Regions from separate parts of the Homo sapiens genome. Here regions 1, 2, 3, 5, 6 and 7 are each reported to be linked to region 4. The links are microRNA targets in miRTarBase. Many come from high-throughput screens and were not tested one by one. Region 4 holds a microRNA gene; each other region holds the end of a gene's coding sequence.
What was found. Region 4 holds the annotated microRNA hsa-miR-4666a-5p (AUACAUGUCAGAUUGUAUGCC, at 1,736-1,756, shown strand). A microRNA usually pairs through its seed, bases 2 to 8, with sites in the 3' UTR of a target mRNA and lowers its output. Matches are read on the target gene's strand: a 7mer-m8 pairs with bases 2 to 8, a 7mer-A1 pairs with bases 2 to 7 and ends in A, and an 8mer does both.

Region 1: the mRNA of MRPL17 is a reported target of hsa-miR-4666a-5p. The part of its 3' UTR that is shown has no 7-base or 8-base seed match.
Region 2: the mRNA of DDX4 is a reported target of hsa-miR-4666a-5p. The part of its 3' UTR that is shown has no 7-base or 8-base seed match.
Region 3: miRTarBase lists GDPD1 as a target of hsa-miR-4666a-5p. Seed matches in the 3' UTR shown: 7mer-m8 at 2,246-2,252.
Region 5: miRTarBase lists FAM98B as a target of hsa-miR-4666a-5p. Seed matches in the 3' UTR shown: 7mer-m8 at 1,826-1,832.
Region 6: miRTarBase lists SEPHS1 as a target of hsa-miR-4666a-5p. Seed matches in the 3' UTR shown: 8mer at 2,113-2,120.
Region 7: miRTarBase lists SHLD2 as a target of hsa-miR-4666a-5p. Seed matches in the 3' UTR shown: 7mer-m8 at 892-898 and 7mer-A1 at 935-941.

What each region holds. Positions count from the first base shown.
Region 1 is chr11:6,678,398-6,682,454 of GRCh38, reverse strand. MRPL17 (mitochondrial ribosomal protein L17) reads left to right here. Exons shown (of 3, transcript NM_022061.4): 3 at 53-2,070. The coding sequence ends at 337. Among named protein-coding and RNA genes, the nearest start is that of MRPL17, 2.9 kb to the left of the region's middle.
Region 2 is chr5:55,816,034-55,820,099 of GRCh38, forward strand. DDX4 (DEAD-box helicase 4) reads left to right here. Exons shown (of 22, transcript NM_024415.3): 22 at 430-1,124. The coding sequence ends at 507. Among named protein-coding and RNA genes, the nearest start is that of IL31RA, 33 kb to the right of the region's middle.
Region 3 is chr17:59,273,044-59,277,112 of GRCh38, reverse strand. It overlaps GDPD1 (glycerophosphodiester phosphodiesterase domain containing 1), which reads right to left. Exons shown (of 10, transcript NM_182569.4): 10 at 1,143-3,462. The coding sequence ends at 3,340. Among named protein-coding and RNA genes, the nearest start is that of GDPD1, 55 kb to the right of the region's middle.
Region 4 is chr1:228,460,348-228,464,416 of GRCh38, forward strand. MIR4666A (microRNA 4666a) reads left to right here and starts at 1,727; the gene lies at 1,727-1,805. It also overlaps the pseudogene H2BC27P.
Region 5 is chr15:38,484,314-38,488,382 of GRCh38, forward strand. FAM98B (family with sequence similarity 98 member B) reads left to right here. Exons shown (of 8, transcript NM_173611.4): 8 at 1-3,397. The coding sequence ends at 346. RASGRP1 (RAS guanyl releasing protein 1) reads right to left here. Exons shown (of 17, transcript NM_005739.4): 17 at 3,790-4,069. Among named protein-coding and RNA genes, the nearest start is that of FAM98B, 32 kb to the left of the region's middle.
Region 6 is chr10:13,315,596-13,319,664 of GRCh38, forward strand. It overlaps SEPHS1 (selenophosphate synthetase 1), which reads right to left. Exons shown (of 9, transcript NM_012247.5): 9 at 1,833-3,761. The coding sequence ends at 3,547. Among named protein-coding and RNA genes, the nearest start is that of PHYH, 18 kb to the left of the region's middle.
Region 7 is chr10:87,190,412-87,194,472 of GRCh38, forward strand. SHLD2 (shieldin complex subunit 2) reads left to right here. Exons shown (of 10, transcript NM_001330112.2): 10 at 73-1,054. The coding sequence ends at 272. It overlaps LOC105378410 (a long non-coding RNA gene), which reads right to left. Exons shown (of 2, transcript XR_001747528.2): 1 at 2,271-4,061. Among named protein-coding and RNA genes, the nearest start is that of NUTM2A, 33 kb to the right of the region's middle.

The DNA.
Region 1 (4,057 bases), not on the chromosome of region 4:
GCCTCTGCAGTTTTGCCTGACTCTGCTGTCTCTTGGATAATTCTCCCTCTAGGAGAAGGATTTGATCCCAAAGCTGTTTCAAGTACTGGCCCCTCGGTACAAAGATCAAACTGGGGGCTACACAAGAATGCTGCAGATCCCAAATCGGAGTTTGGATCGGGCCAAGATGGCAGTGATCGAGTATAAAGGGAATTGCCTCCCACCCCTGCCTCTGCCTCGCAGAGACAGCCACCTTACACTCCTAAACCAGCTGCTGCAGGGTTTGCGGCAGGACCTCAGGCAAAGCCAGGAAGCAAGCAACCACAGCTCCCACACAGCTCAAACACCAGGGATTTAACTGGATCTGAAGAGTCTGCAGCCCTTAATCAGTACCCATGATCACAGGCCTTTGGAGCACTTTTACTCTCTGAGAAGAACTGGAGCTAGAGATGTAAAATGGACAGTCTTGATGGGGTTGAGAACCTTCTGGGGAGCCAGATGACCCTCTCTTTGCACAATAGATAAAAGTCTTTATATGAATATATATAAATTTATTTATTTTTTCCTTCCTGTGGGATTTCTGGAGAATGAGAATTATCCAAATGCTCAGTCTACCTGAGATAGTAAATTCATGGCTTATGCTTCTGGTCCTTAAATTTGGGTTATTTTTGGTTAGTGCAATTTTGTTTTTCTTAATGCCAGTTTACATGGGAATGCATCCTATAATTCCAAATGTTGCCAGAGGTGGTTGTGTTTTGACATCTGGTCTCCTAGAGATGAGTGCTTGGGATTTCTTAGAGAAAGATTACTTCCTGACAGGGGTAGGGGAGTGACAATCTGCAAGTGAAACTTCCTTAAACAATCTAGTACCCTGCGAACCTTCAGGGGATACTGCAATCAGTCCTCTGTTTTGAGGCAGGATCACACATTACCTTAATGTGTTCCCTTCAACCCCCTGAATGGGCCTGGGAGGAGAGGACCCAAGAACTCAGATGTTCCACCAGTTTGGCCAAAGGGGTGGAGACATTCAGCAGAGGATGTTGGGCTCCAGGATAAGCTCCTTCCTCTTGGTGAGGGGAAGGGGTAAGAAAGAGGGTCTATGCGAGAGAAGGATTAGGAAATTAAACCTCCTAGGAATTTCCTGGAAGTTTTTATTGTTGTCAAATCTGGCCTCTCTGGGAACCCAGAAAAGGGAAATCCGGCTTCAGAATGTGAGAAGCTGGGAGCCCCTTTCTTGGCACAGCCAGGCTGCCGTTCCCTTGGGTTCAGAGGCTTTAGTAGGGTAGTAGTTATGGAAGGACTTAGAAAGGAGCCATCAGTCTTGGTCCAAACACTTGATAGCAGTGCCTGATAATTGCCATATCCCCAGTAAAGTGGGTAGAAGAGATTTTATCTTAGGCTCTATCTTCTGAGTGTATTTGGCCCACTGAACCCATCCACTGTCTGAGATAATAAGTAAGAGTAAGGGTAAAGGGATCACTGGTGTAGCAGACATGGCTTCAGTGACAGAACGAACTATTCTGGTGCTAATTTAGCTGTAGCTGCCTTAGTCTGATACTCATCTACTCCCAACAGAGCTCTTTATCTCTTTTTCTCTACTATGGTTTGTTCTTCACACTATAGCCAGAAAGCTCTTATATTTTAAATGAAATATAGTAGACACTCAAAACATTTATGAAATAAAGCTACAACTCTGCTTCTGCTAAAAAATATACCCCTCTTCTGTCTTAGCATGAATATCCACCCTAGCTAGGTATCTAGGAGTCATACCTAACTTCTAGAGAAACCACTTTCCTTAAAACCACATCTTTATTTTAAATAGATGGATTGTGGCTGGGCTCCTGTAGCTTTTCCTCTTAGACCCCAGAAATATATCTCCCTTTGGGACTTCCAACAGTTCCCTACATGCTTTTTGAGCATCTGCTAGTTCCCAGCATCAATTTAGGCAGAAGGGATACAATATCCACTGTTCATCTAATAGAGACTAGAGATAAGAAACAACCTGTACCATCAATGAGCTCACAATAACAGGCCACTGCCACTACCACAGTGGCCTCAAGGGACACTGCTTCCCCTTTAATGTTTTGGTCCAAATAAAAGTACATGAATCCTAAAACATTTGCTAAAGGCTCAGGGATAACACAAGGAAAGTAACAGCATCAAGAATTTTACTGCCGGGTGCGGTGGCTCACGCCTGTAATCCCCACACTTTGGGAGGCCAAGGCAGGCAGATCATAAGGTCAGGAGATCAAGACCATCCTGGCTAACACGGTGAAACCCCGTCTCCACTAAAAATACAAAAAGTTAGCTGGGCGTGGTTGCGGGCACCTATAGTCCCAGCTACTCAGGAGGCTGAGGCAGGAGAATGGCGTGAACCTGGGAGGCGGAGCTTGCAGTGAGCTGAGATTGTGCCACTGCACTCCAGCCTGGGCAACAGAGCGAGACTCTGTCTCAAAAAAAAAGAATTTTACTAATCTGGCTTATAAATAACTTCTTCAACTAGTGGACTGCTCCCCCCAAGTCCATCTAGGCACCTCTTTAATGCGTTCCAAACCCAAGAGCACCACTCTCAAAGGTTCCCACCGTCTTGGGCGCCAGTTCTTTACAGTAAGGTAGACAAAGTAATGATCACTCCTTTCTCAAAAGGTAACAAGTTTAGGCTTTACAGTTAATACACTGTAAGCCTGATATCTTGGGGAGATGACTAGAAAAGTCAGAGATTATTTCCTTACCCTCATTGACACTGAAATTAACAAGTCATGTTTATTTCCGTAATGTTTCTCAAATCTGCAGTCAACTTGCTCCCTAGTAAGAAATCCAAGATACCTCTATCCTGGGTTACTTCAACAACCTCCTAACTTACCTCCCTCTACACTTTGGCTGTACTGACGGGAATCTGATCATCTTAATTCCCTGGTGATGATCTCCAGTTGCTTATTTCCTATGGGATCCTTATCATGACTCCCCTCCTTGTTCAGGCATCTACTCATCACTCCAACTACTTCCTTTGCCTCTAAATGCTATGCTCTAGAAGCATAAAAGTTCCTATTTTGGATGTTTCCCTGTGCACAGCTCCCCTGTCCACAACCTTTTGTTAAAGCAGTCCCTGCCGTGCAGACAGCCTTCTCTCTTTTACCTATGTAACTTACACACAAACTTTTGGTATCACCTAGGTGGCTCCCCGCCCATCCCCACAGCTAAATTCATGACTTCGTCAGCTGAGGTGCTCTATGTTTCGATAATACACTGAATTTGCCACATTGCATTACAGTTTCCTACAGTAGATTAGTTCCTGAATGGGTTGTAGTGGACAGGCCTAAACTAAGTTAAGGCAGTGAGAATCTAAGCTCTATTCTGCCTAGATGAATAAATTGGCATGTTATTCTAAGTGCCACTGGGGAACTGGCTTTAGGCAGAAGATAACACTGAGAGTGGCAGATTAGAACAACTAAAACTCTCAGTAAACTATCGCAAGAACAAAAAACCAAACACCGCATATTCTCACTCATAGGTGGGAATTGAACAATGAGATCACATGGACACAGGAAGGGGAATATCACACTCTGGGGACTGTTGTGGGGTGGGGGGAGAGGGGAGGGATAGCATTGGGAGATATACCTAATGCTAGATGACGAGTTAGTGGGTGCAGCGCACCAGCACGGCACATGTATACACATGTAACTAACCTGCACAATGTGCACATGTACCCTAAAACTTAAAGTATAAAAAAAAAAAAAAAAAAAAAAAAACAACTAAAACTACAGCACCAAGAGCTCCCAAACTGGAATCCTAGTTACGTTGGAATAATAATCTTTTTTAGTGATTATTCCCATTTGGATCTGAATTTTCTGTTAATTACTACTAAAAGTAATCTGATAATTTGTGTAACACTGAACCTTTAAACAAGTGCTTCTCAAAAATTGTGACTGTGACCTACAGGTCAAAAAACATTTTACATCAGAACAGATTATCCATAAACATAAATGATTGAAACAAAATCTTCATAAAATGTTATTTACCTTTACAAATATGATCTACCCTCATATTTTCTACTTGTTCACCTTTTATATGCTGGCCC
Region 2 (4,066 bases), not on the chromosome of region 4:
CTTCAACCTCCCAAAGTGCTGAGATTACAGGCGTGAGCCACTGCGCCCAGCCACGAGGCTACAAGTCTTTTCTGGTATGTCAGGTTTTTATAGGCTGAACACCGCCTTTATTCAGAAACAATGAGCATGTTAATTAAATATTTATGCTGATTCATTGAGTGTAGTGCATTAAGTTTTCCCCACTTGTCAAAACTATTGACTTAAAAAATATTTTTCTTGAAACATTTTGTGCAATTTAGATTTCCTCATTTGACAGGAGCCTTTTTTCAGGTGAATCAGATTTAGTGAGAATAAAGTTCTTTGATTATTTGGGGAAGACATGGTAGATACTTTGAGTCCTTGCTCTCAGTCTGAGTGATGTAACTTTAAAGCTGTCATAAAATTAAATGTTTGTTTGTTTCTTTTTTTTTTTTTTTAAATAATTACCAGGGCAAGAGCACTTTGAACACAGCTGGGTTTTCTTCTTCACAAGCTCCCAATCCAGTAGATGATGAGTCATGGGATTAAAGCCAAAACATCCTTCAAGTCTGTGGTTTTGATGCAGAGAAGAAAATAGTTTTGATTTTTGAGTTTTTAACAGAAGTATAAAACTTAACATTCTCATAGCTCCTGTCCTTGTATTCTCACTCCTACACTTAAAAAAAAAATCCTTACTGACTAGTTATGTGAGATGCTAAAACTTACAACATTGCAGTTACTGATACAAATGGTGTTAACTGGGAATATTAAAGCATTCTAAATGTCTTTCTTATTTCTGGTATATTCTTTAGGGGGCTTAGACATGTTTAATGTTTAAATGCCAAGTCTTACTATAGTGTTTATTGATCTTATAAAACAAGCAAATAGGATATGATACACTTTTGGTTAAAAATTACTGGGTCTCATTTTTACTTGAGTCTTTAAAACAGTAGTGTGTCACTATAATGTGATAATCTTTAAGAGAAAGTAGAATACTTAAGCCTTTCAAAGTGATTTTGATTTTTAGATCATCAGATGTATGATGAAAATGGTTAAATGTTTGTGATGGGAGCTCTGTACTCAATGGCATAACAATGTTTATTTTTATAATATACAATCTTTCCTTGAAATAAAGGATGAAACACTTTTCCCTTAAGTTTTCCATCAGCACTTTAAATTTTTCTTTGTTGCATATCCTAGCCCAAACTCCTATATTTTTGAAACTGTTTTTTTGTGTCTTGCGTAACCAGTGCAGTGAACAAAGTCTTACATAAATTAAATATTAATGTATAAACATTACTGCACAGATGTGGCAATGAAAATCAATCTTAGAACTCAAACCCGTTTATCAACAAAAAACAATGCTGCTTACTCTTTCCATAAGTTTTTGATTCATATTTTAAGATTGATGAAAGAACCCTGTCTTTCTTCATTTTCCATTATATATCTTGAACTTACTATGCCTAGAATAATGAAGTTCTTTTTTTTTTTGAGACGGAGTCTTGCTCTTGTTGCTAAGGCTGGAGTGTAATGGCGTGATCTTGGCTCACTGCAACCTCTGCCTCCCGGGTTCAAGCAGTTCTCCTGCCTCAGCCTCTCCCGAGTAGCTGGGATTACAGACACGCGCCACAATGCCCAGCTAATTTTTAGTAGAGACGGGTTTCACTATGTTGGCCAGCCTGGTCTCGAACTCCTGACCTCGTGATCCGCCCGCCTCCACCTCTCAAAGTGCTGGGATTACACGCGTGAGCCACCGCACCCAGCCCGAAGTTATTAATTAATTGTTAAATGAACGAACCCAAATATTTAAGACCCAGTGAGGTGTAAATACTGGGGAGACAAAAATGATTGGTATTAAGTGTTACTGTTCACCTAAACAATCCAAAGTGACATGTCCCTGATGTATATCTTGTTATAGGAATTTAGTTAATAAATGAGGCATCACATATGAAAAAGGAAGGCATATCAACAGATAGTGTTAGAATAACTGGGTAGATGCCTACCTCATGCCATATTTAAAATTAACTTCATGTGAATTATAAAATATTAAAGCTAATAGTTAAATATTAACCCTTTGAAGGGTTGACTTTAAGCTAAGGAACAGAAATCAAAAAAGAAACAACAGATTTGATCACTCAAGGAAAGATTAGTTGCCTACATAAAAAATAGTGAAAAGTAGACAAGGAAAAATATTACTGTGACCACAGTGGTTATCAGTGTTCTTTATATGTGGATATACTAATAGAAGAATACAAAGAACATAGAAACTCAAAAAGGGCACCAGCATGGCACATGTATACATATGTAACAAACCTGCATGTTGTGCACATGTACTCTAGAACTTCGAGTATAATAATAAAAAGAAAAAATGTTGACAACAAGAAAAACTCAAAAAGGGAAGTTCAATTAATAAAAATATGGGACATATTTCACTTTTCTTCTGTTATCTCACTTCTGGGAAAGGCTAAATGAATGAAGGTGTTTGGATTGTTATTTGTAATATCTGTATGTCTTAATTTTCTAGTTTCGTTTAGGAAGAGTATAGGCCAGTCTTGTCTCATTTTTTTCATTGCTTTTTTTTTTTTTAACAGATTGCTCCCTCTGAACTGATTCCTTTTAAGCTTTTGCTTGATTTGTCAGATTACCATAGTAGCATTACTGAATCAAATATAAAAAAGGAAAGGAAATGTATCATACATCTACCACCATTACAGATGAACTGTAAATGTCCCTATGTTTAATTACTCTCCTCATTTCTAGGTATAGGTTTGAATCATCTCTTTAAAAATTATCAAAGTAACATGCATAAATTAGAAAAGAAAATGCCATAGAAGCATTTATAATAGAAAGCAATATTTTTCTGCCCCTCCCCTTCCAAATTGCCATTCCACATCCAACAATCAGCTATTATTAACAATTTCTGTTCACTGCCATCATATACAGGTTGAGTATCCCTTATCTGAAATGCTCGGGACCAGAAATGTTTCAGATATCAGATTTTTTTTTGGATTTTGGAATATTTGCATAATATATAATGAGAGATCTTGGAGATGGGACCCAAGCCTAAACATGAAATTCATTTGTTTCATTATACCTCATATACAACTTGAAGATAAGTTTTGATATTTTAAGTAATTTTGTGCATGAAACAAAGTTTGTGTACCTTGAGCTGTCTGAAAACTAAGGTGTCACTATCTTAGTCACATGTGGACAATCTGAGGCATCACATTGGTGCTCAAGGTTTCAGGTTTAGGAGCATTTGGGATTTTGAATTTTTGGATTAGGGATGCTCAACCTGTATTTTTATGTCACCAACCAGAACGTCTGTTGACTTTGATATATGAAGATTTAACTCACATCTCTGACTCGCCGTAGAAGTATACCTGTGAGATGATTTTAAAGGCACCTTTTCCTTTCCTCTATTTGTATGTCATAACATCTGTAAACTGCACATTTACATTTCCCAAGTTAACATTTGCATTTTCTATAACCATAAAGTCTCCCTTATATACACAGATTCCAGAATTGAAAATCAAAAGCATGTGTTTATATAAATATTGTTCACTGGATGGGCCAATTCACACAGTCTTGATTGCCTCACCTTTACTATCTTCCTAATTTTATGACTTTTGTGTCTGCAGGGAGAATGGGAAGTGTCAGGGTCAAATGAAAACTGCCCAAAGCCATTCCACATACCAGCTTGCTTTGAATTTGGATCACACAATTTTTGAGCAATTTGTTTACCCTGTTTGTAGTGTTTTTTTGTTTTGAAGGAGACAGATCATGCATTTTTCATATTACCTTCCCAGGTTTGATGTTAATTTTCTTAAAAGATCCCAAAAGATATTGGTTGTCTTCACTTTTATGATGAATGCGACTTGTGTGTGATACTCAGGGTGCTTTGAAAATTGTTTTTTTTTTTTTTCTTGGTCCCTAGGAGTGTTTTTTGTATTTGATAATTTTTTTCCCAAGTTTTCTCTGTTCTCTATTTTTGGAGCTTCTATTAGATTCCAGAACTGAATTCTCTATTGTATCTTTCCTGTTTTTTTCATCTTTTATATTCTAGTATATATTTTTTACTTTCAACCGTTTTATTAGCAATTGTTTT
Region 3 (4,069 bases), not on the chromosome of region 4:
CACCCTTAACTTGTCATTCTTATCTATTGCAGAATCTCTTTTGATTTTTTTTTTTCCAATGGATTCTTTCTGGGGTCACCATTTTGCATAACTCTAGGCAAAATCATTCAGGCTGTGTTATATATTAATGGTTTCCCATACTGGAGCATACTATGATTTATTATTTATGTTCTGTTTTCTCAACCCATCACAGCCATCCTTTCTTCACAGTGTGGCTATGAGATGACTCCCTGTAGTCCCTCCCCACTCCTCAATTTCTAGAACTGAAATGAGAGCTTTAAGAAATTCTGAGGCCGGGCGCAGTGGCTCGTGCCTGTAATCCCAGCACTTTGGGAGGCCAAGTCGGGCAGATTGCTTGAGCCATGGGCAACATGGAGCAACCCTGTCTCTACAAAAAAATACAAAAATTAGCAGGGTGTGGTGGTGTACTCCTGTACTGGCAGCTACTCAGGAGGCTGAGGTAGGAGTATCACTGGAGCCAGGGAGGTTGGGGCTACAGTGAGTGGAGACTGAGCCACTGCACTCCAGCCTGGGTGGCAGAGCAAGACCCTGTCTCAAAAAACAAACAAACAAACAAACAAAAAACTTGATGCCCCTATCAAAAAGCAGAATTCAGATGTTAACTGAATGATGACCAACTTCCTTGTTAGAAAATACTATGTTTTTATTAAGAAAATTAAAGTCACCTTGACTATAAAATCACCAAACTTTTGAAACATTATTTTCTAAACATCTTTACCTTGTTGGGTACTTTTTCTTCTACTGGTTTACATAAAATATAAGCTGGCCCTTTAATATGATCTGTTCTGAATCATAACAAAGCAAAATTTAGAAAGGAGAAATAACAAAAAGAATTCTATCAAAGATGATCAAAATGATCCCTAGCAACTATAACCATAAGTTACAATAAGTGAAATTGAAAATGACTGATTCAGTGGATTACCCTCCCAAGTTATTTGTTCAAATGCCAAGAAGTAACTTTCTTACCATAAAAGTGTTTCCATATTTTCTTTTCTTTACTAGAGAGAAATCTCAGGTGCATTTATTATTCATATGATTAAAGCATCACCTCATTAAATTCTGCAAAAAAATCTATAAAGTATATTTGGAATTAAAACTGAAAAAGAATGAAGAATGCTTACTTTGTTCTTGGAAAACTTTATTTCAGTTTAAACAACAAAGCAAATGATATTTATGTCATCCAGGGACAGATAGGAGAGTACAGTCATTCTTCATAGCAGTTTCATTGCCAAACTCCAAATGAGAGATGTAATCTAGGTAAAAGACACTTATTATTCCAGATTACATTTACCTCACAATCTGAGATCATGAAAATTAGTCAAATATATTAGAAACAGATGTACACGAAGTCACCTCAGATAAACTGAGAAAGTGATGTCTAATGCTTTGGAAAATTCTGTTTCTACTTAATACTCAGATTAATGAGTTTTAAAGATCAGGAACATCTTTATGGGGGTTCATAAATGTTAGGAACAATGATATGCACTTTCATCAGTTTAATTATTAGGATTCAAGATGGTATTTAAAATCTAGATGTAGGCTCAGTTAGTCAGTGCCAAAAATGGAAATCTTACATTTTTTTAGAGGAAACACAAAAATATGACTATTTGGATCTTGTCTTAATTTACAACTGGTAAGTTCCTTTTTAATGCTTAAAAAAATGGACATGGTAGAATTGCTACACACCTGAAAAAGGTCTCAAATAGAATGTTCCATTAACAACAACAACTCAGAAATCTAATTCACTCTACAGATTTTATTTCTGATCAACTAATCAACTTTTATTTTCTTGAGCCTGGCTGCTGCTGATTATGTATAACTTGCCAAATAACTACACATCACTGATTTCCAAGCTTTTTTCCGTTTTATTTTTCCTCTTTAACTAAGGTACACCTAGAAATAACAAGACACTACCAAATAGCTGCAATGGCCTTCAAAATTTCTTTTACTGGCCGGGTGCAGTGGTTCAAACCTGTAATCCCAGCACTTTGAGAGGCCGAGGTGGGTGGATCACCTGAGGTCAGGAGTTCGAGACCAGTCTGGCCAACGTGGCAAAACCCTGTCTCTACTAAAAATACAAAAATTAGCTGGGCATGGTAGCAGGCACCTGTAATCCCAGGTACTCGGGAGGCAGAGGCAGGAGAATTGCTGGAACCTGGGAGGCAGAGGTTGCAGTGAGCCAAGATCGCACCACTGCACTCCGGCCTCGGCGACAGAGCAAGACTACATGTCAAAAAAAAAAAAAAAATCTTTTACTAATTGATTGTATTCCAGTGAAGACTATTGCCAATTTTTTTTCTTTTTTTCTTTTTTTGAGACGGAGTCTTGCTCTGTAGCCCAGGCTGGAGTGCAGTGGCGCGATCTCGGCTCACTGCAAGCTCCGCCTCCCGGGTTCACGCCATTCTCCTGACTCAGCCTCCCGAGTAGCTGGGACTAAGGTGCCCACCACCACGCCCAGCTAATTTTTTGTATTTTTAGTAGAGACGGGGTTTCACCATGTTAGCCAGGATGGTCTCGATCTCCTGACCTCGTGATCCGCCCGCCTCGGCCTCCCATTTTTTTTTTTTTTTTTTTTTTTTGAGACGGAGTCTCACTCTGTCTCCCAGGCTGGAGTGCAGTGGTGCTATCTTGGCTCACTACAGCCTCTGCCTCCCGGGTTCAAGCAATTCTTGTGCCTCAGCCTTAAGAGCTGCTGGGATGACAGACGTGTACCACCACGCATGGTTAATTTTTGTATTTTTGGTAGAGATGGGGTTTTGCCATGTTGGCCAGGCTGGTCTTTAACTCCTGACTTCAGATGATCCGCCTGTCTCAGCCTCCCAAAGTGCTGGGATTACAGGCATGAGCCACCACACTCAGCCCAATGCCAAATGTATCCAATAGTCTTTGATTCCAGAATTACTTATGATAGAACACTGCATCATCTACAGAAATCTTGATCAATAACCTAGATAACCTAGTTTCTAGGTTATTGATCAAGATTTCTGTAGATGATGTAGTATGTACATTTCTGTGTATGTTATTAATCAAGATTTCTGTATAAGATCTAGAAACAAAAATGCACATTAAGAAATTAAAACTTACATCTCATAACCAATTATCTTTCTAAACAATTTACAAACATAAAATATACAATATTATTTAAAATAAATATACATATAATATATAGTTTCTACATTCTCATACAGGCTTAAAAATGAGGTAATAAAAACTGATTAAACCTTTTACCATTCTGGAAATGGCTTAGGGAAATGATCATGAAATATTTTTTTCTTAGGTCTTCATTTTTTCCTTCAATACTTCTAAGTACCTCTTTTTCTATGCTGAAAAGTTATGTAAAAAATCCCTAAGCTTTGTTGGATAGTCTGTCATCACCCCAGTTGCTCCCAAATCAAAAGCTCTTTTGTATTCTTGTTCTTCATTTAATACCCAAATATACACCTGAAAATTAGAAGTGTGAGAAGTATGAGAAGAAATGTTAAAATAGAAAATTATTTTTATAACAGTATTTATCCACTACAGTCTTGGTACATTTAGAAATAACCTTTTAAAGCTATCATTTAAATAAATCATTAGATCCTTTTTTAAAATTCCACTTTGTTCCTTACAGGAATGAGGAGTGTTAAAAAAAAATTCATGGTGCTTGTTAAATATACAGACTCCTGGCTGAGCGCGGTGGCTCACGCCTGTAATTCCAGCACTTTGGGAGGCCAAGGCAGGCAGATCACCTGAGGTCCGGAGTTCGAGATCAGCCTGGCCAACATGGCAAAACCCAGTCTCTACTAAAAATACAAAAATTAGCCAGGTATGGTGGTGCATGCCTATAATCCCAGCTACTTAGGAGGCTGAGGCATGAGAATTGCTTGAACCTGGGAGGTGGAGGTTGCAGTGAGTCAAGACTGCACCACTGCACTCCAGCCTGGGTGACAGAGTGAGACTCCATCTCAAAAAAAAAAAAGAAAAAAGTAAAAAAAGAAATATACATACATATATTTATATATATATACACACACACAAACACTGTCCCACCCCTCTGGCATCAGCTATT
Region 4 (4,069 bases):
CTCCAAAGGGAACCCGTCGCGTGCCTGGGATGGGGAAAGAAAGGTCACCGTGAACATCCTCGACCAAAACGGCTTTGTCCCCTATTCCCCACCTTTTTTTTCCTGCGTGATTCCTCTACAAGAATCTTTGAGAACCTCGCATGTTTTAAAGCTATCTAAAATATTTTTATTTTCAATTAAAATAGTTGCAAAGATACAAATACCAACGTGGAACTTTTTAAAAATCAAAATTCTCACATCAGTCTCAAGGTGCCTTTTGGAATATCAATATGATAGTATAATCAATTCATAAAATACATGACCAAATTTTTCTTTGTCAATGCGATGTTTCAGATGATTTTTTTCCTCCTGAATGCCTATTTCCATTCTCCATTTGCCTTACAATTTCACCCTACCATAATATATCTATTGTATGTTTAATAGTGTTTTGTCTATTGTTCTCTGCAAAAAAGTCTACATTGAAATTTAAGCATACCTCTGGGTAGTCTCTCACTGTTAAGAAAAATCATCTCGACAGTACACAATTGTTCAAAACATAAATAATTTGATGTTATCAAACAGATAAACTTTTAGTGAAACTGACTCTTAATGAGCTGGATGGTGCACCCACTCTCTTCTCTCCTCTCCTTTCCACCTCAATGACTGCACACATGCAGTGTTCATATTGTTACAGTGTTAGCACAGCATGGGATCATTTCCATATGGTTACAATGCTAGCAGTGCACGGGGTCATTTCCATTCTGTTTTGTTTTGATATATGCTCCAAAAAAAATTTACAAAAAATACACAGGAATGACAATTTTGTCATAGGCACTTTATTCAATTCTTTGCATCCCTAGTTATAATCCAAATATTAAACAGTGATCCATCATCAAAAGTAAGTGGGACTTGTCAACACCCTTAGTACTGTCAAGAAATATAGGATTTGTATGAAAAGCTGTTGAATCCAGTCCTCTCCACTATGAAACAGGTGCCCAATGACTGGAACATCCAAGCCCTCGGCCTCCTACCAGCATGGATTGGAAGTCAATACCTTAAACATTTGCAGCTGTGAAACTACTCTCACAGACCCATATAGTTCTCCACCTTAATGAACTTAAAACATAGGTTTAATAAAGTGAAACCAGTCTCCAGTAGAGAGAGTGAATGATTGTGTTAGCACAAGGCAACAACACTGGTTAGTGCCAGAGATCAAATCAAGGCACAAGATGAACATTTCATGACATTTTCCAAGTGTAATTCTCTAAGAAGGCATTTTGTGATGGATAATGTCAAACGTCAGTCAATTCATGTCTCAGTCCTTCTGATTCCCCTGGCACAAACTTGAAGTAGAAACAGGCTGTCTTTTCCTGCTACATTAGCACCCCCAGGCCCAGAATGAATGGGATTTGTCCGTCTCTCCTAGGACAGGGATCTGTTAAGGGAGAGGCAAAGAAGGTAAAACAGGATCCTTGCTACTAAGATTTTATAATGGAGAAAATTCAGAGCAATCGTGTCCAGAACCCATTTCTCTAATTATAGTGTTACAACAGAGAAAGACAAATGTTAATGATAAATGAAGGCAGTGCACATCAAATATGTGAGAATCCACAGAGACTAAGGGAATTAGGACTCACTCAACAAAATGGAAGCATTTTCTGGGTTGGAGAGACATGCCAAGATTCTTAAACTAAGCCAAATTTTTAAACTAAGCTTCATCTCACCTATCTGAGATGGGTGAGTGACAATCACTTAAATACATGTCAGATTGTATGCCTACAAAATCCCTCCAGACTGGCATACAATCTGACATGTATTTAAGAGATTGCCCCTCACCCATCTCAGATGGAAATTTCAAGTCAGATTTGCTAATTATTATGCAGTAAATAAAATAATTTGGAAGGAATCATCTCCAATTAAACCAACTTTGATTAAAAAACAAAAAATAACAAATGTTGGTGAGAACGCAGGGAAAGGGGATGCTTGTACACTGCTGGTAAGAATGTAAATCAGTACAGCCACTATAGAGACAAATATGGGCATTCTTTAAAAAACTAAAAACAGACTTACCATATGATCCAGCAACCCCATTGCTGGGTATATATCCAAAAGAAAGGAAATCAGTATATCAAAGAGATGTCTGCGGTCTCATGTTCATTGCAGCACTATTTATAATAGCCAAGATAGAAAGTCAACCTTAGTGCCCATCAGTAGATATATGGATAAAGAATATGTGGTACATTTACACATTCGAATACTATTTGGCCATTAAAAAAAATGAAATCCCGTCATCAGCAACATGGATGGAACTGGAGGACATTATGTTAAGTAAAACAAATCAGGCACAGAAAGACAAATACTGCATGATCTCACTCATACGTGGGAGCTAAGAACATGCATCTCATGGAGGTAGAAAGTTGATTGCTGGTTACCAGAAGCTGGGAAGAGTGGTGGGGAAAGGAGGAGATGAAGTTGATTAATGGGTACAAAAATATGCTTAGAAGAAATGGTAACATCTAGTATTGGTTAGAAAAGTAGGGTGACTGTAGTTAACAATAATTAGTTGTATTGCTGGAGGAGAGGAATTGGAATGATCTCGACCTAAAGAGGGTGTGAATATGATGACGGATGTCCCAGTTGCCCTGGTTTGATTGTTAAGCCTATGCGTATATCAAAATATTTGTACCCCCCAAATATGTACAACTATTACGTACTACTAATAAAAAAGCATATTGCTCTGAAAAAGTGCTCTAAAAAATAAAGCCTATTTACAAAAAGAATTTGGAGGAAAGAAAACTCCCTTTAAGAAGAAACTAACCCAAGAAAATGGATTTACTTTATGAGGCCAGAGAGGTTAAATGTTGATAAATGCGTGGCTGTCATTGTGTTGGGAGTGTGCAGTGGGAACTGAGCCTGGGTAGAGTGCATCTTCTACCAGTGGGAACTGAGCCTGGAAACCGAATTCTAATTCCAGGCAACGTTTTTGCTTAGAGGGTGGGTAGCTCTCAGGTATTCGTGGTTGGGGTGTCACCGGTATGGGGTATTTTTAGGGGGAGGACAGCCTGGGCCCCAGTCAGGCCTGCATGCCTTAGTTTTTAATGTGTCATCCAGAGATCATACTTATTTTTCCTATGATTTGCTGGAGTTTTTTTTAAAAAGCACTATATTTGCATTATTCAAAATAATCTTTCACTGTGTAATATGCGTACACACACACACACACACATTTTGGGGGTAAAATACGAGAATCCCTTAATTGGGGAAATTTTAGCTGAGTGATAAGGAGATCTGTGAGCCTGCTGTTTTGATGTTTCAAGCAGGAAGGCGTGGCATAAAGAGCTGCTTAGGCGCAACGCTGCTGAAATGGTTTTGGCTAGAAGCTCACAGTGTCTAGTTGTGGCTAAGGAGGGAGGAAAGGGGCGGGAGAAGAACGGACCCAAGCGCCTCCGCCCAGACGGCGCGATAACCCCCTCACCTCCAACCCCGGACCTCAGTGAGCACGTCCTCCAGTCTCAGCCGCCAGGAGGCACTGGGGGCGGGGACGTGGCACAAGATCTTCCCGGAGGTGACCCACGCTCCTCGCGCGCAGGGCGTAAGCCACACACAGATCTTTGGATGGGATCCATGGCGCAATCGCCTGTACTGCCCCCTCTCTGACTTTGCCTGTGGCCAACACAAGACGAACGCAGCCTTTCTAAGGGAAATATGCCGTTACAAACAAGAAGCCTAATTTTGTCTCTAAGACTTGCGCCCCCACGGCTCAGTCTACTTTCCCTCATTACTCCAATTGAATCACAGGTCACAACCAGACCAGGTGGCACGCTCCTTTTGGAGCTTGGAGGTGGCTCTGAAAAGAGCCTTTGGGTTCGGGGCGCCGGGACGCACCTCACTTGGAGCTGGTGTACTTGGTGACAGCCTTAGTGCCCTCGGACACGGCGTGCTTGGCCAGCTCGCCGGGCAGCAGCAGGCGCACGGCCGTCTGCACTTCGCGGGACGTGATGGTGGAGCGCTTGTTTGTAGTGCGCCAGGCGGGAGGCCTCGCTGGCGATGCGCTCGAAGATGTCATTGACGAAGGAGTTCATGATGCCCA
Region 5 (4,069 bases), not on the chromosome of region 4:
TCCAGAAATGCCCCCTTGGCAAAAGAGACAAGAAGGCGGCGGTGGAAGGGGTGGTTGGGGTGGTGGTGGTGGAGGTGGTGGTAGAGGAGGTGGTGGGGGTGGGGGTGGGAGAGGTGGCTGGGGGGGTGGAGGAGGAGGTTGGGGAGGTGGTGGGGGAGGGGGAGGAGGGTGGGGGGGAGGAGGAGGAGGTGGTAGAGGAGGTTTCCAAGGCAGGGGAGATTATGGTGGAAGAGGGGGTTATGGTGGAAGAGGGGGCTATGGTGGAAGAGGCTATGGAGATCCATATGGAGGAGGTGGTGGTGGTGGTGGTGGTGGTGGTGGAGGAGGTGGATATAGAAGATACTAAAAACTATAAAAATTAGATAGCAGTGCTTGCTTCTTTATAGATACATTAGAAATAGTGTTCCAAATAACATACTTGAATATCATCTTTGAAGTAAACACCATGTTAGACTCCCTGGTGATACCACTCTTGAATTGGTTAATATGTAAGAACATTGTTTTTTATTACCAGTTGATCTCTCAAATGAAGTGATGACTTTTTCCATATTCTGTGTACCCTTGAGCATGTTGTGTCTTTTTAAAAAACAAAAAAAAGAACAAAAATTATTTTTTAAAATGTAAATATTTATTACCATCAGACTTGGAAAATGGAAAGTATTTTATTGTCATGATTGAATTTAGATTGTTACCTGTATTTTGTTCAGGTTTGAGACATATAAAAGACCCCACCTGTAATAGAAAGGAATATAGACCCTTGCCTCACCTGTATTGCTGTGGATGTGTTTTGTGGGTTTTTCATTCGATTTTACAAAATAGGGAAAGGCACTTCCAGTTGTATTTAGTAGGCAGTTGTTGTGAATCATTTTTTTCTCTTATAGGAGGAGATTCCTCTCTAGCCATGTTTCTGTTAAAGTTTCATTAATTGAAGCCCAAGTTTACTTTTTACTGTACATACTTATTTTCTAATTGGATTTGAAATCAGCATGATTTTGTTTGACAAAGCAAAGTTTAAGATTGAGGTCAGAAATACTTTAATGGAGCAAAGACACATACCAACTTTACATGACGGTGTGAGAAATAGTCCTATAAACTGGTCTCTTCATCATTTATGCTCTCACTTTAGATATCCAAATATTAAAAGGCAGGCTGACCTGTATCACACAGAATTAAGGCAGTAATTTTCTGCTTCAGTAGATCAAGGGTAGGGCTAAGGCATCCTGTGGTAATTCTGATTCACAGCTAGATTTGGGAAACACAAAGTTAGGGAATGGCTATATGTGATTTGCTAGTTGGAGCAGTCAAAGTCTTAGCTATCAAGAGTTGTGAATTTGAATCATGGCACTAGGTCAGGGGTGCTATGGATTGAAATGACCTTAGTTCTCAAGGAGTGATTTGTCCTCATTTGTCAAATGAGGAATGAGACACTTACCATCATCTCAGGTTGTTTCTTAAAGACCTAAATACAAATACAATTTGTTAAAAACTTACAGAGGGCCTATTTTGAATGCTTTAAGATGTAGGCCAAGTAATGTATTTTTCTCTTAGTGTAGAAAGTTAAGAGAAAAAGAGCTGGTACCATAAATTTTTTCAATCTTAGTGTAAAATCTGTATCTCATTGTAGGCTTCTGGTCAATACCTATACATAACAACTTAATGTGATCTAACCAACTCAACTGATAGAAAGCTGAATTGTTCCCAGTGGACAAGTGGTATTTGATGTTTAGCAGGTTTTTTTGTTGTTATTTTTTTGGTAAACTCTGTGGTAAAATCTAAAATAATGTTAAAACCCTAAAAGTAACTATTGAATATTCTGTAATCTTAGACATGTATTTTTCAAGCTAACCCTTTGAAGAAATGTGTTCAAGGTAGGAAAATATAAAATTTTTTGGTTATTTGTAAATTTATTTTTTGTGTGTTTATATTTAATGAAAAGATGTAATTTCATTTGTGATAGCTGAAAAAAAGGCTTTCCATAATTAAGAAAATACCTTTATCAGTAGCTATGAACTCTGAAAAATAATTTTTAAAAACTTTTAAGAAAAAAACTACTTGAGTAAAATATTTCAAGAGTTGTTTAAAAATCTTCTTTAAAACCTTTACATTTCTGCCTCACTTCTTTTTTGGTAGCATTAGTTGCTGATGAAGGAGATTTACAACTACTTTCAACTTTTTTACCACTAAAGGTTTATGGTAAATATGGCAGAAACAATAGTTTATCAGTTTCATTAGATTTTCCATAAGATTTCTTTGTACCTTTATAGGAGTGCTGCTTGGGTTATTCACTACAATCACTTATTTCCTATCAAAGTTTAGCACTTGCTCCTGGAATCGTGTTGGAGCTGAAACCACTCCTATGTACACATTCCTATAAACCTTAATTGAATGAAAAGCTGAATCAGGTAGACTCTTAATATTTTACTCTTTCCTGTAAGGTGGGATTTTCCTGATAATCTTTGTTCAGTAAAAATTTCTTTTGTAGAACAGTTTGCTGAGCAGTATCTGGAATAGCAGGAAGGAAATTTGGGGCCTTAATGGGAAAGGCCATAGTGTGAAAATGTTTTATAAATTGAGTGCAATACGACATGGAGTATGATGAATGGCACTCCACTGCTTCCTAAAATCCAACACTTTTTTTGATACCTCCTTTTCATTCTTTTTTGCCTGGTTCTCAATTTCATTTTTTAATTACCTCATTGTCCTTCCCCTTTTTTCTTCTCTTTTTGTCCAGCCTGGTACCTAATAGCAAATATAGACATGATCTTACTGGGAGTTTCTGCCTAAAGTAGTCATCTTTCCTCTCGACCGTATAAAGAGCATGTATTCTGTCTATAACATAATCACCACACTATTACTCATAAGCACACATCAAAAGGGAAACAAGGGTTTTCTTTGAACTTACTTTTGTTTTGCAGATCAGGGAAACCTTGCCTCATTAAACAGAAAAAGGAAAACATTTTAAATAAAAAACATCTTATTACCTGTATCTGTGACAAGAGGAGGCATGACAACCTAAAAAAAATTTGTGACCAGAAAAATGTCCTGAGCAGTGATACTATCTATACCTTGGAAGGAGCACAGGTTAGAGAAATGTGGGGATGAAAATTGGGGAAGGTGAGCAGGCAGTTTAATCTTGCCTTCAGGATCAGGCTGTCAGTGTGACTTTATTACTTTGTATGAAGTATTATGAATTGCCCAAATGATAAATACACCCCCATCTAAATGTTCCAGAATGCATTCCACAGAGGAATTTGAGTGACTGAAATTTTTCCTCTTTCTTCATTGGTGTGGTTAAACAAAAATTAGCTGGGGATTAAGGGAAAATTGTGGCTATGTCTGATCATTCTAAATAATCATGACCACAAATAAATTGCCCTGAGTAGGTCTGTAACCTGGATTGAGCTGTCGTTACCAATTTTATCCATAGCTTCAAAGGATTTCTTCTTTACATGCTAGTTTGCTTAGATGAAACTGTGGAATTAAAAGCCACAGAGAAGGGACAACCTCAAGTCTGTCTCCTTTAATGTTAAGTATTTATAGACTTAATATTTGGGGACCACTGTAAGTTATGAATAAGATGGAAAGAGATTGAATATTTCTGTAGTGTTACTTCTTCGTGTTGTAAAAAGATGTAGAAAATTTTAAACTGAATAGCTGCTTTGCCTTTCCTTCCAGGAAAACTCAATTTGATTAATAGAATAGGGCAGTGGTCTTAGCTGTGGAATATAGGAAAAATTCAGGTAAAGTGTTTACGGGGTCACGAAGCAGAAGAAACACAAGACATTTGTGTTGTAGGGATCCTAATGTCTTTTATCATATAAATATTACACAAAGAAAACTTACATTAGGTATCAAAAAACTTTACAATCTGTACATTTGTTTTTTTCTTGCATTTCTATATTATACATTTTGAGACAGAAATTCACAACGGTCAGTAAAAAGGTAAGTCAGCAAAGAAAATGAGAAGTGACCCTGCTGTTAATACAACAAGATTTGTCCTTGTTTTGGCAGATAAATACCTGGCCAAACTAAAGTCGTGTGAGATGCAGAAATTTACACTAGGCTTGAT
Region 6 (4,069 bases), not on the chromosome of region 4:
GACTGAAACACAATAAATACCTCAACACAGCCTGTGCAAATAAGCAGCTTCAATATTCCTTCAGATTATTCCTAGTGCCTGAATGACTGACTCCACCATGATCCAGCTGCCTCAGGTTGTATTCACTAATTCTATGCATTCTAACAGACTGTATTTTTGGATGCAACTATACTATATGATTTACAGAAAACAAATCAGTATACCAAGATAAATACACTTCAGTGTGAAGTTTTAAAGTGCTACCAGAAAGTCAAATCGACTACTTACTCTCCACTCACTTTTTAAATTTTATTTTTTGTAGAGACGAGGTCTCACTATGTTGCTTAGGCTGGTCTCGAACTCCTGTGCTCAAGTGATCCTCCTGTCTCAGCTTCCCAAAGTGCTAGGATTATAGACGTGAGCCACCATGTCTGGCCTGTCCACTGACTTTTAAAATGTTCTACATAGATTTTGCCAAGAACTCCAATATTCAGTGACAATCATTTGAGTCTTCGTGGAGCTTTCAAAATACAGGTCTTTCTGCTGCCTTGCTGGGCCGTAGCTCAGATGTGGGAAGTAAACAGAATGGTCAAGATTTGGTCGGAATGGTCGGTAAGAGAATGGTCGAGGAAAAAATTCCTGCAAAATATGTTGCAAAAGGCTGGGCATGGTGGCTCACACCTGTGATCCCAGCACTTTGGGAGGCCAAGGCAGGCGGATCGTTTGAGCTCAGTTCGAGACCAACATGGCAAAACCCTGTCTCTACTAAAAATACAAAAATCAGTCAGGCTTGGTGGCATGCGCCTGTAATCCCAGCTACTCGGGAGGCTGAGGCGGGAGAATCACTGGAACCTGGGAGACAGAGGTTGCAGTGAGCTGAGATCGCACCACTGCACTCCAGCCTGGCTGATAGAGAGACTCCGCCTCAAAAAAAAAAAAAAAAAAAAAGTTGCAAAACCAGGTCCTCTTACTTTCCCTGCCTTCCTCTGCAACATTCCTTTTGAGATCAGTTTTTTTTTTAAATTATACTTTAAGTTTTAGGGTACATGTGCACAACGTGCAGGTTTGTTACATATGTATACATGTGCCATGTTGGTGTGCTGCACCCATGGTTCTGAAACTTTTTTGGCCATAGCCCCATAGGGTCCTTATTTAAGATATTCCCAAAGTCCCACACCCCAGAAATTCTGATTCTGTGAATCTGGAAAATCAGGGGCAGGAATGTTGCCTTCTAACACCCCGGGTGATTCTAACACAGGTGAATCTGGGCCACTATACAATACTGGTTTTTGTTTGCTTGTTGAGACTTGAGTCTGTTTCTTGAGACTGAGTCTCTGTCGCCCAAGCTGGAGTGCAGTGGTGTGATGGCAGGTTGCTCACTGCAACTTCTATCTCCCGGCTTCAAGCGATTCTTGTGCCTCAGCCTACCCAGTAGCTGGGAATACAGGTGTGCGCCACCAAACCCAGCTAATTTTTGTATTTTTAGTAAAGACAGGATTTCACCATGTTGGCAAGTCTGGTCTTGAACTCTGGACCTCTGGTCATCTGCCCACCTCGGCCTCCCACAGTGCTGATATTACAGGTGTGAGCCACCATGCCCAGCCAACACTGCTTTAAATACAAATTCTTCCTCTTGGGATCATAAGACTTACACGGACCTCTAAGTACCCAACATTTTCTCTTTATAAATATCAATCTTCACAAATATTATTTCCTTAAGTACATACTCCACTTAGCTCCCTCCTCTCAATAGGCCTGCCACTGAGGAAAACACCAGCTCTCACGGCACAGGCTACACTGAAGTTCAGTCATCGTTATTTAAAAAAAAAAAAAAAAAAAAGCTCAACAGTAGGTTTATCTCACTAGAGGTTTCCAACACACTTTATTTTGCAGACCACTGGTTTGTAGCTTTTGAGGACCAACATCTCTATCAATTCCTATAAAATGTCCAATCACTTTCAGTTCCGTAGCAGGCTCTTCCATACTGCACACCATGCTTATGGCTGGAGGTCCAGTTACACATGCATGAAGGCTGCCCTGCCCACTGGTTCCTGGAGGAGGGCGCGTCCGAGTTAAAGCCTCTTCCAGGAGCTTGAACTTCCCAGGGGTCATTTCCTTTGGCAAGAAGTCAGTTTACATGTGCAGCTTTGGTGCCTGTGAGCAGAAAGCACCAGAAATGGGCAGGATGTGCTGCTTTTTCTCTCACGAAGATGGGCACTTGAGGATCCAGCGCCCTTGTGCTTAATGACAGGAATCCCTCCTCATTGCTTAGTAGGTTAAAATATAAGGAAGCCTCCACTTTACATAACACAGAGAACACCTTTTTAGATTGCCTATTTATTCTAGAACTACAAAATTTAATTCAAGAAAATATAGGTCCCATGAAAGACTTAAAAGTTTTATAAAACTAAAATCTAGTTTTTCCCGATAAATTGTACTTTAGGCAAAACCCTCCCAACGCTTCTAAAATAATACTAAAAGGGGCATCTGATTATACAAGAGCAATTTAAAAAATTAAATATTTATTTGAATAACAAGTTTAAGTTCGAGCTGCAATGTTGGCAATGCAGGTTTTTAACACAGATCACAAAAAGCGTGCACAAAAAAGTACTGGCGCAAAGGACAAAATAATGCTAAGAATTAGGCCAAACAGCTGCTGATTTTAAGAAAACAAAAGGCCTGAAATCACTGTACAAAATAGAAAATGTATTAAACACTACCATCCACAGAACAGTCTTTACTATTGATTATATTTAAAAATTATTTGTGTAATTATATATTGAATTGTAAATGAGTATTATACATGAACCTCCATTCGGAAGGCAATTCCTTGTAGCACTATAGAACATCTAATAACATTGCAAAAAGTATCCTTTTTTGCTATCGATAAAACAGTTAATGGTATTACTGTAAATATCAGGAAGGCTACAAAAAAAGAAATAAGATTTCTTTTTTGTCTTCAAAGTGTTTTCCATGCAATGAAGCACTTGCTGTGTTGAACTGAATGCACTACTGGAGAATGTTCTGGGTCCGAGATGCTCTTGAGAGACAAGACTAGGCTTTTCAAATCAAACACTCAAAGGAATCATGCAACCCTCTTATGACTGGGATACCGTCATGTGCCACTTACCAATGCTGTCTCTCCAGAAAACCATTCAAGACGCTTAAAAAAAAAAATCAGACTTATATGATAAATATACATAAAATGAAGACACCAACTGCTATTTGACACGACTACGGGTAATGCCTGTGCTATGTGAAAGCACCTTTAAAAAGCCTATGCGGCAAGAGATAAGTGTCTAAAGATTCAAAATGAATCAACAGTATTGGATAACAATATAATTCTCAACTCAGAAGCTGCCTCAAGATTAGGTGCATCTTCAGTTAATGTAACAGGAAAAAAAGGCAATGGATTTTATTTTATTAATTGTATCCACTTACAAACCGACCTAAGGTCACCCCGATGTGTAGACACAATGAGATTTTTGTTGTTTATAGTCTTTAATTGAAGTGATAAGGGAAATAGATCTATTTAAAAACAAAACCAAACAGCTATTTCTGTCTAGATTAAGAGGTGGCCCCGGGTGTGGGATTCACATTTTGAGTGGCCACTTGTGGTGCGACCTCGATGATCCGGGGTTTGTCTATGATTCTGGCTGTGCGGTTGCCCTTCTCTACAATCCCAATAATCCATGCTTGGTGGCCTTCACCATATTTGGGGGACTTTATCTCTGCACAGAACCGAGCTGCTTGCTCACGTGGTAAACAGATCAGAAGGCCGCCTGGCAAAAGAAAACAAGAATGACTGTTAGTGTTGACATGACAGCAGCTTCTCTGCCTCTGCTGCTTCTGCAGAGATCCAACTTCCATCAACAACTTGCTGCCACCTATATGCAAGTAGCTCTTCCCATTCAACTAAGCAGCTTTTTTTTGAGACAGGGTCTCACTCTGTGGCCCAAGCTGGAGTGCAGTGGTACAATCACAGCTCACTGCAGCCTCAATGTCCTGGCTCAGGTGACCCTCCCACTTCAGCTTTCCCAGTAGCTGTGATTACAAGTGTGCACCACCACACCTGGCTAATTTTCTGTAG
Region 7 (4,061 bases), not on the chromosome of region 4:
AAACCATTCAATGTGTGTGCTCCTGTCAAGCTAGCAGCGATCTTGGGAGCTCTGTGTTTTTGTCTTTTGCAGTTCCTTCCTCAGAGATCACCTATGGGATGGTCGTGGCAGACCTGTTCCACTCCTTGTTGGCAGTCAGCGCAGAACCTTGTGTATTAAAGATTCAGAGCCTTTTTGTGTTAGATGAAAACAGCTATCCATTACAACAAGATTTCTCCCTCCTGGATTTTTATCCTGACATTGTAAAGCATGGAGCCAATGCCCGTCTCTGAGGCCAGAGGAAGAAATTGCAGGCATTTCAAGGAAGAAGTACTGAAATGATTTGTCTTTTGAAATAAATGAATGACAGGGCTTTTGCTTTGGATTTTTTATGAAATATATTTTACAAAGAGAATTGCACTAGATATATAAATTAAAACTTTTTTCTAAGAAAATCCTGTGAGGTTTAAAAAGATTGTTTTTGTCTTTTGGTTTCTTACTTTCTCCTGGAGAAATGATCTACCAGTCAAGGCAATATGTAGCAGATCCCTGGGAATTAAAGGTTTGCCCATTTGTTCACTGTATTTAGTCCCTGCTACATTCCAGGCATTGTACTAAGTATGGGGAACCACAGAGAAGACATTCCCTCAGAAACTGCTGCAGTGCTTTCGCTTATCCCTACCTAAAAAACCGTCAATGTGAAATCATTTCCTTGATTATAACTATAATGATAATGGATTAGTTTATATAAACCTATGTTTAGACAAGTTCAAGACAAGCGTGTCTTTCTATAAAAAGTATTGAAAATGAAGGAAATGAGATCATGTTTCAATTTATTAAAGCAGGGAAGAGCGTTCTGTGCTTAGTTCGTGTCTAGGATTTGAGTGCCTTACTGAATGCATTTACCAGCAAACATGTAGCAATCTGTTCTCTCATTGTGATTGTGGAAGAAGCTCATGTAAAATGATAGTCATTAATGAGGAAGTATGGCGTGGTACTTATTCTGTAAGTTCAGAGTATGCTGAGTGTTAATAGATTATCATATTGCCTGAAAATAAATTCATGATGACATGAACAAGCTTCTTTTACTCTGTGTATGTTTTTAAAAATTCCTTTGGTTCAGAGGTGGTGGTTGTTTTTTAACTTGGCTTCCCTAAGAATGAACCACAAGAGTTTTGTGATTCTTTCAAAAATAATATGCCAAAATGACTTTGTGGGAGCACACACACACAACTGCATGTTTCTGTGGAGAAGGATCCATAGCTTTCAACAAATCCTCAGAGGGTTCTGTGACCAAGAAAGGTAAGAACAAGGCTTTAACTGATGAGTTTCTTTGTGGGGGAGATAAGGGAATTAGAGCAAATGATTGCCAAAGTTTTGTCTAGCAACTAATAAGGTGGGTACAGAAAGAATTGACTCCATTTTGTATCTAGAGAGACTGGAATTCAAACAAAATCATTGGCTCCCTTCAATGATTCGTTGAATGGGTGATGAAACTTGAGCCTGTAGTTGACACCTTCTAATCTGTGCTCTCTCAACTATAACCACACTAGGCGGATATTTGGAATTCTGATATAAAATCTGCCCAGTCAATATAGGCCAACCAAGAGAGCTGTTCGCTTAAGTGTGCCCTTCCCCACTTTGTCCTCAAGTGGAGACCTAATCCCTACATCAACCAGAACATAATCCCCAGGAACAGATGGCTCTTCACATCCTATTGGGAAGAAATCTTTAAACCATTTCAGGTGAGTCAACAGATCACACCAACATCTCTTCACAGTTGTTGGTATGTATTTCATTCATTAACACATATTTCCAGGAGCCCTTATTTAGGTTGGGAACTGTTTCCTCCAATCCTGAGGAATCTGAGCTATCTACAGAAGTTATGAGCTATTTAAGTGGGATCAGGATCAGCCCATTGCTCCTGCTATGGTCTGAATGTGTCCTCCCAAAATTCTTACGTTGAAACCTCATCTCTGATGGCATTCAGAAGTGGGGCATCTGGGAGGTGATTAGGTCATGAGGGCTTTGCCCTTGTGAATGGGATCAGTGCCCTTACGGAAGTGGCCCGAGGGAGCTTCTTTGTCCCCTTCTGCCACAGGATACAGCCAGAAGGTGTCATCTTTGAAGCAGAGAGCAAGCCCTCACTAGATTCTCAATTTTCTGGCACCTTGATCATCCCAGCCTTCAAACTGTAAAAAATAAGTTTCTGTTACTTATAAATTGCCCAGTCTGTTATTTTGTTATAGCACCCAGAACGGACTAAGACACCTTCTGTGTGTATTCTTTACCTGAGTTGACAAGTAAGTGTCTTTATTCTGTTATGTTTTCATAAAACTCAGTGGGGTAGCCAGAGTGTCATCCAGCAGTCCCATATCTGGCAGTCTTATGGTGGGCATTTCAGGGAGACCTCATTCTTCATCTTCTGATAGTTCAGCTTGCAGGGACAGCTCTCCTATTTTTAGAGAACCATTTTTATTTGTTAGTCACTTAGTTTCCCCAAAGGTATCCTTTTTCTAAAAGCGTTAGAGGCATTCACCTTTCTCCCCACTAGTAAGATCTGTGCTGTTTCATTTTACATCTTTTTTTTTTGGTTGGGGGAAAGGGGGCTGATCATCAAATGAGTTGACAACATTGGGTGCATGATCCACCCTGCAGACGTTCGCTGAATGTCTACCATGTGCTAGGTACTGGGAATGCAAAGACACAAATGTCTGCCTTCTGTAAGTTCACAGGCAAGCTGGTGAAGAAATATTTAAACAAAATTATATCAGCGCCAGGATTAAATCTGTGTGGAATACAGAGCCAAGGCAAAAGAGGTAACAGTAGGATGGGTTTGTTAGTCGTGACTCTTGGTTGCAAGTGATAAAAACCCAACTCAGAGTAGCTTGAGCAAAAAAGGGGGACTTGATTGACTCACATAAATGAGGGTAGTACCAGCTTAAGGCACAGTTGAATCCATTGGCCTAAATTACCTGGTTACCCCAACTCCCTAATTTATCTTTCTTTCTTTTTTCTTTCTCTCTCCCTCTCTCTCTCTCTCTCTGTCTCTCTCATCAGAAGAGGTCTTTTACGCTGTTATTGCAAAAGCATAGATGTTTCTACAGAGTTTTGATAGGATAACATTTTCACAGTGATTATAAATTTACATCATCCCTAGAATTCTAAACTACTGGGATCTGAGGCCGTAAGGTGTTTAAGAGTATTCTGACATTACCTTAGATTCAGCAAAACTTGAATAGTTGATCATGCCTTTCTTAGAAGAAAATATCTGTAATTTCTCAGAACAATATAGAATGAGACAGAAAAACTAACCATCCCTATGTGTCTTATTTTAAGTGATATATTTGTATCCTGATGGGTTTCTAGGTGTTGGAACACAGGTCATGAATCATAGAACAATTAGAATAAAGTGTTCGTCTTTATCAGTAGCTTAATTCTGGCCCTTCATTTAATGTCAACAGGGTAGAAATGTGTGAGAGGGGATGAGGTTTGCCAATTAATTGTCATTATGTCTTTGGAGGTCTTGAACCTGATTTGTTATTATGAAGTGAATTCTACCCACTTAAGGCATACATTTGCTAAAGGTGACCTCTCTGCTTCCACGTTGTTAAGAAATCGTGATTTTTTTCAAAACCATCATCAGCTTTACAGTTTTTGAGGAAAGATCTAGAAGCCTGTTAAAATGGAGTTACCAGGCAGGGTTCAGCCCAGGAAACCGAAGCCACTCTGGGAATTCTAAACAGAGAGAGATTAATGTGGAATTCAGGTGTTTGCAAAGGTATTGGAAGGCTGGAGGAGCAGGCATCAGTCTGAGCTCCAGGAGGCTGCCACGTGAACGGTGGATTCATGAAAACATCACCATTGGCTGCCATCTTAGACTGAGGATGCAGCTGCTGCCATCCTGGCAACTGACTCTCAAGCACATGGAAGCTGGGAGTTAGTTGCTGCTGCCCAAAACTCAGTCCCCACAGCTACACTTGCCAGGAACAGTAGCTTCAGGAAGATAGCCTGGATTTCACTCATCTTCCATATTGCACATGTGTGTGTTTCATTGATGGAACATGATTCACACTGAGAGC